2 linked regions of the Homo sapiens genome follow. The protein of the gene in region 1 purifies or fractionates together with the protein of each later gene. This does not show direct contact. Each region holds a gene or a part of one and is shown on either strand. Other genes may lie near its edges.

Region 1 (3,500 bases):
ATGTTCCTCAATTACTCTTCCTTTTTAGAAAAAAAGAGAAGCACATAAAGAAACAAAATCCTGGGAGATTAATCTGATGTGACCTAATAGCAAATTTTAGGAATCTTGTTTACCTAAAATTGATTCTAATAAGATATCACCAAGGTTTATTTTATATATAGAAGCACATCCAGGATCACAGTTTTGATAGCAAAGGTTTTGATATCACCTGTAAAATATATGAAGGGGTATAAAATGGTTTTGATATTACCTACAGATTATTTGAACTTTTAAAAACTATGATAATCATAGTTGACACTATGCATGAGAATGATACACTGACATAAAACATGATTTTTTTAAAAGATAAAATAAACCTGTTGAAAGTCTTTGAAATGACATTAATAACTGTTTATATTTATTTTTGATGGGATTCCAGAAAGATAATGCTTGCTAACCACCGTCCTTCAATGATTGAGGCTCTCTACTTGAGAAAGGACTTCTTTCTGTTGCCTCGGTTAGTTCCTCTGTCTGATTTTCACTGATAATGCTCCAAGCACCAGCTGATAAAGGGTCAACTAAATGCCCTGGTATAAATCTTGACCAAACATCTGGGCACAAGGTTACACAAAGAATTCCCAATTTATGTGACGGTGGTGCATGTTTTATTTTGTAGTTAAATTTTTTCCCACCAATTCTAAGAAACTTCTGGCTCAATGTGGTTTAATATGAGCTTTTGCTTGTTTCTTTTACAGCAGAATCATCTTTAACATGAAACTACAGATTGAATTCTACCTATACCCAGAGTACCTTTGTTAGATTGAAAAAGCCACACATACCTCCAACGTTGTTCTTGTAGGTGTTATATAATTCTTTTACTCTTCTGTAACGAAAAGCCAACTTCCTCATCCAGTCAACCCCTCCTCTTACACCTGTTGGCAAACAAAGGTTTGCACTACTTGCAGCTGCATGGAAGCCATCAGTTGCAAAACTGTAGGTACTGTAACACCCAAAATACATTAAAAAGAAATAATTACATGTGCAAAACTCCACAGCCGAATTTCTGTAGGAAACAGCATACTGAAAGGCATAGCTTACCTTAAGTCCTGCCCATTATCATCAGAGGAAACATCATCTATATGAACTTGATCACACTCCTGTTAAAAACATTGGAAAAGTTATTTGTTTTCTAAATGATGCTTGTTACCATGCTTGAAGGTTTTCCCATCTTCTCATCTGATCAGACTACCACCAGAAGATGGCAGCATGTGCCCGTCCATCTCATTGCCTCACTCTTGTTTTCTTCTGTTGGGAAATGGCACCATTTCTACCCCACAAAATTTAAATCCAGAAGAGTTCCATAGAAAGGAGGGGTGAGAAAATATACGGCATGAGAGTTTCTTTAGAGCAATTTAAAAATTTTAATCTTAAAATTATTGATAAGAAATTCTCTTGAATCTTCATAAGCATTTGAGTTCCCTTCCAGGCCATTTCTGTTGTGCATACTTAAGCATGGCTAATCTGAAGATACACAAAACTTAGTCTGAACACCTCAGATGGTTACTATTATTTATCATTTGTTGAGTGGCAACAGAGGGGCTTGCCTTCAGATTATGGTGTCCTGTGGAATTTCCATGACTTCCTGCTGGACCAGAACCATGAAAGAACCATGCTGGTGTTATTTCAAGGTCCTAGTCTTTTGACACAGAAAAAGGGTAATGATCATAGATATTGACATTTTCTTTTTGTCAAGTTTTTAAATTTTCAAATCAAAAAGACTACTTTTAAGTAAAAGGGAAATAATGACGATTTATCATCTCAAATGTGCTACAAAATTCCAAGCAAAATAAACTTTATGTAAGTATACCCACACAATTGACCTGATTTTTTTTTTTTTTATATGGAATCTCACTTAGTCGCCCAGGTTGGAGTGCAGTGGCGCGATCTCGGCTCACTGCAAGCTCTGCCTCCTGGGTTCACGCCATTCTCCTGCCTCAGCCTCCCGAGTAGCTGGGACTACAGGCGCCCGCCACCACGCCTGGCTAATTTTTTTGTGTTTTTTGTATTTTTACTAGAGATGATGTTTTACTGTGTTAGCCAGGATGGTCTCGATCTCCTGACCTTGTGATCCGCCTGTTTCGGCCTCCCAAAGTGCTGGGATTACAGGTGTGAGCCACCACGCCCGGCCACAGTTGACCTGATTGTAAGTTACTGTGTGCTCAGAACAAATGGTAACTTATGTGGATAAGGATTTGATCCTTCTTTGCTGTTCTGAGTCTTAGTCCATCTTCAAATAATCTGCAAAGTTCCAGCGCAATATTACAAGATCTAAAGGTGAAATTTGGTGAGGGCATTTAAAATGCCTAGTTCTCAGAATAATAAATATATAATAAATAAAAATAAATTATTTATAATAAATAACTACATCATATTAACCTCAGAGTAAGTATGGTTTAGCATCTTGGGCCTCCTTAGTCCCCCTCAAAGTATTTTACTCATACTTACAGCTTCTGACTATATACATAGTGCTTAGCATTCAAAATTAATTTTTAAAAAAAATCATTAAATTTGAAAATACACCATACTAAACAAAGGTTTTTTGAAAGCTACTATTTATATTCATTATTGGGCTTGAAAGTATCTGGCAGTCAAATATTTCATACCTAGTCTCCAGATTTCCACACAGAAAGTGTTTAATCCGGTTCCAGTTTAAAGGTATAGTTGACTCAGGCTTCCTTTAATATACAAAACTCAGTGACTAGCCCAATCAGTACCTTCTGAGTATGTAACTTGAAAATCCAGGTAAGTTAAAAGTTCATATAATTTACAGAAATTACAGGGTTAGTAAGTTTTGAATAAATCTCCACCTACACGTATGGGTCCCCAAATTTAATCTGACTGGAAGTGCCCTGGAGTGCGGCATTTGGTTCACCAGGTTACATCCCCACTTACGGCACAATCTAGCATAGAATAATCACTCCACAATTCTTTCTTAAATAAATGGGAGAAGTCTAGACAAATGCTAATTCTTTACAGGATTACCACAATCATTTAAATTTTCTAACACAAGGTTACGATGATATAAAATAAAAGCATTCTAAATGGTGAGGAGAGTAAGAAGATATTTATGTCAAGAGTGGAAGGAAGGGAGAGAGAAGAGTGCAGAGACTGCCCAAGGAATGGCCTGGCCGGACAGGTATTTAGAAAATGTCTTCCCCTCTTTGACCAAGTATTGGCTGAAAGGAGTGCAGTCCAAACTGTAACCAAAGGAGGCATTATGCTTCCTGAAAAACATCCAGTAAAGGCATTGCAAGCAATGATAGTAACTGCTGGACTGGGCTTTAAGGAAAAGAGTGGAGAGATTTTACCCATTAGCATAAGGGTTGGAAATAAAGTTTTTCTCCCAGAATATGGAGGCACCAAAGTAGTTCTAAATGATGAGATTATTTCTTATTTAGAGATGGTGACATACTTGGAAAGTCCGTAGACTGAAATAAATCACTATTGAAATGGTGTCACAT
Region 2 (3,721 bases), about 95 Mb from region 1:
CCCTGTCTCCAGAAAAAAAACAAAAATAGCTCTTGGTCCATTATTCTAATATTTCTTCTGTTTGAATCTACAGTCCATTGCTTTGGGGGTGTTTTATGGTTATGTTTCTCAAATTATTATTTTTTGCCTCTGAGCTTTTTTCCCCTGCAACTGTTCGCTATTCTAACACATCAAGCAGTGTGAATAGGAGAATGGCCAGATCCCTGTCCTTAACAACCCACATGATCTCAGGACAATGGGCTGGATAAGCCTAGGCCAGAGATTCCTAGGCACCTAGAAATGAGACTTAAATTTATTTCACCTTCCACAAAACACCTCTTCAGGTTGGATCTTCCCACTTCATCCCTCAGGGAAGAGTATTAGTAGGAGACACTTCCGATAGTGTTATTCCCTAGCCCTGGGCGTGGAGAGAGGGCTGGGGAGATCATTCGGCCCTACCAGTTTTTCTCAGTTTCTCACAAGCACAAGGCTCCTGCACTGCCCTTGTTTACTGGTAAGGACATCTGAACAAGCGAGAGGGCAGGTGCCGATGCACACAGCAGTGAGGGAGGAGCAAGAGCAAAACTCTGTTCTCTCGCAGCCATTATGCACTGCCTTCTGGTCCAGGCCAGAACTACCACCTCCCACACAGCCCAAGTTAAAACAGTCACCCGGCCCCATCCTCACCCATTCTCCCCAGCTGTCACCAGCCGGGTTTCTTTCTTTCTTTCCTTTTCTTTTCTTTTCTTTTCTTTTCCTTTTCTTTTCCTTCCTTCCTTCCTTCCTCTCTCTCCCTCCCTCCTTCCTTCCTTCTCTCTTTCTCTCTTTCTCTTTCTCTTTCTCTTTCTCTCTTTCTTTCTTTTTCCTGCATTTTCCATCTATGTTCCTCTAGGATTGATCTTGGAGAAAGGAGGCAGAGATAAGAGTCAAACCAATTCAACATAATGGTCCCCAAATAAATTTCTGAGGTCATATTTTTCCATTTAAGCAAACAGCTCTGACATACTAGACTCTCAATCTCAGTTTTGAATTCCTGGGAGAAAGACTCTCGCAGAGCTTGGGTTGCCTAGGATAGTATTTAAAAGGGTTTGTATGACCCAAGCATCTGGGTCTTTTGGTTGTGGGGGTAAGCCATGCTACCAGCTCCCTTCAGCACCTCCCTATTTTCTTTTTCTTCTTTAAAATAAGACAATTTCTGTAACTACTGAACTGGTAGTGTGGTATCATGAAGGTGAGGCAAATGCCTGATACCTAAAAGATGCAGCCAGTCCCACAGTTTATTTCAGGAGGGCTGGTATTTGCAATGTGTGCAAGATAACATTTTAGTCATTATGAAAAGTATGACTTTTCATACTTTTCTGACAATAAGAATTTTTAAAATTTAAAACTGTAAACAAAATAATGTACTTCATTAAAATGCAAAGTAAATCTTTAATTAATAAAAGTTTTTAAGGCCAGGTGCAGTGGTTTGTGCTTGTAATCCCACCACTTTGGGAGGCAAGGCAGGAGGATTGCTTGAGGCCAGGAGTTTGATAGCAGCCTGGGCAGTACATTGAGATCCCGCCTCTACAAAATCAAAAAATTAGCCAGGCAAGGTGGTGCGTGCCTGTCGCCCCAGCTACTTGGCAGGCTGAGCTCAGGAGGTCAAGCCTGCCTTGGGCCATGATCATCCCATGCACTCCAGCCTGACATTCAGAGCAAGACCTTGTCTCAAAGAAAGAAAAACATTTTTATGGTGTTTTCTTTTTTAGTCTTTTCAATAATGAAAATTTTCATTTTACAGGTAAAATGAAAGGCCTGGCATTTATTCAAGATCCTGATGGCTACTGGATTGAAATTTTGAATCCTAACAAAATGGCAACCTTAATGTAGTGCTGTGAGAATTCTCCTTTGAGATTTCAGAAGAAAGGAAACAATGTGATTCAAGATATTTACATACCAGAAGCATCTAGGACTGATGGATCACTGTCCCGATTCAAATTATTCTTCAGTCCATTTCCCCTTCCTATTTCAGCTGTTCCTTTTCACCTAACTGTTCAGTCATTCTGGTTTTCAAGCAGTGCTTTATCTCATGTCCTTGAATATAGTTGTGTAACTTTATTTTTTAGGTAATAATTAGAACAGTTCCCTTCAGAGGCTGCATTTGCCTTCTTCTGCCACCTAAATATTACTTCCCTTCAAATCTGCCTTTGAATCATCATTTTTAAAAAAAAATTAACATGTTTTTGTTGTAGTTATCTTCTGGGGTTTCAATTCCTCAGAAACAACTTTTTTCACAACGGAAAGGAAAGAACACTAGTGTTCTTTCAGTAAAGTACAAAGTGTTTATTTTACAAAAGAGTAGGTACTCTTGAGAGCAATTCAAATCATGCTGACAAGGATACTGATAGAAAAAGTGATTTCTTCTTATTATAAAGTACATTTAAAGTTCAAGGACTAACCTTATTTATTTGGGAAAGGGGAGGAGGAAGGAAATGATATGGTACCCAGACACTGGGCTAGGCTGCAACTTTATCTCATTTAATACTCCCAGCTGTCATGTGAGAAAGAAAGCAGGCTAGGCATGTGAAATCACTTTCATGGATTATTAATGGATTTAAGAGGGCATCAATCAGCTCAACTCAAGATTTCATAATCATTTTTAGTATTTAGATTGTGCCTCAAAGTTGTAGTACCTCACAATACCTCCACTGGTTTCCTGTTGTAAAAACCTTCAGTGAGTTTGACCATTGTGCTCTTGGCTCTTGGGCTGGAGTACCGTGGTGAGGGAGTAAACACTAGAAGTCTTTAGTACAAAACTGCTCTAGGGACACCTGGTGATTCCTACACAAGTGATGTTTATATTTCTCATAAAGAGTCTTCCCTATCCCAAGGTCTTCATGATGCCAGTAGCCATATATGATAAATTATGTTCAGTGATAACTTAGTTATCAGAAATCAGCTCAGTGGTCTTCCCCGCCATGATTCACATTTGATGAGTTTTTAAAAATCAAAGTGATTTTGAAAATCTCTAATGGCTCAGAAAATAAAAACATCCAGTTTGTGGATGACTATATTTAGATTTCTCTAGACTCTAGTGGAAGACCTTTGGAAAGGCCATGCCAACCGTGCTTGTACTGCTAGAAGCACTTTATGTTTCCTTTTTGGGTGAAATGGATTTATGTGAGTGCTTTAAACAAATAGCAATACTTATAGACTGAAATAAAATGAAACTTCAAATAAGACTATGTTTAATTTGTAAACCTTTGTCCATCATGTTCTTTCTTTAAAAAAAAAAAAAAACAACTCCCCTTAGTGAGTACTGAAAGGATTTGAAAAGGCTTGTAGGCTCATTCTGAAGAGAGAACAATTGTGATTCTGTACAGCCCGTAAAGCAGGTAGTGTCTATGGATAAGGGAGTGTGGGAAAGGTGGGAAGAAGAAAGTGAATACGGAATAAAGGATTGTGGTAGATAAAGTGCAAACAGAAGAATATCAAAAGGTAAGGAACTTATGAAGACCAATTTCACATGTTGAGTGCTAGAACTGACAAACGGGAGGGCTAATACATTCACAAATTCAGTAATTTAAGCTTTATTTCCAAGGAAAGAAGCCTTCTCCACTTGCTGAGTAAAACTTGCCAAAAGATAGCCCTTGCTCATTCTTTAAATTCATTCCTATATGCATTTTTTTTAAATGTACAGTTGGCCCTTGAACAACATAGGTTTGAACTCCACTGGTTTATTTATACAGGGATTTTTTTC

What was found. The genes of interacting proteins can lie anywhere in the genome.
Region 2: the proteins of EYA4 (region 1) and GLO1 purify together in Homo sapiens (affinity purification with mass spectrometry, with the first as the bait; one large-scale study listed by BioGRID). This does not show direct contact.

Annotation. Positions count from the first base shown.
Region 1 is NC_000006.12:133,510,357-133,513,856, reverse strand, and holds part of EYA4 (protein phosphatase EYA4), read right to left. Parts: exon of another isoform or gene 3,131-3,500; intron 1,137-3,130; coding exon 1,078-1,136; intron 980-1,077; coding exon 819-979; intron 1-818. UniProt on the Homo sapiens protein: Tyrosine phosphatase that specifically dephosphorylates 'Tyr-142' of histone H2AX (H2AXY142ph). 'Tyr-142' phosphorylation of histone H2AX plays a central role in DNA repair and acts as a mark that distinguishes between apoptotic and repair responses to genotoxic stress.
Region 2 is NC_000006.12:38,675,425-38,679,145, reverse strand, and holds the end of GLO1 (lactoylglutathione lyase), read left to right. Parts: intron 1-1,762; coding exon 1,763-1,851; 3' UTR 1,852-3,221; downstream 3,222-3,721. UniProt on the Homo sapiens protein: Catalyzes the conversion of hemimercaptal, formed from methylglyoxal and glutathione, to S-lactoylglutathione. Involved in the regulation of TNF-induced transcriptional activity of NF-kappa-B. Required for normal osteoclastogenesis.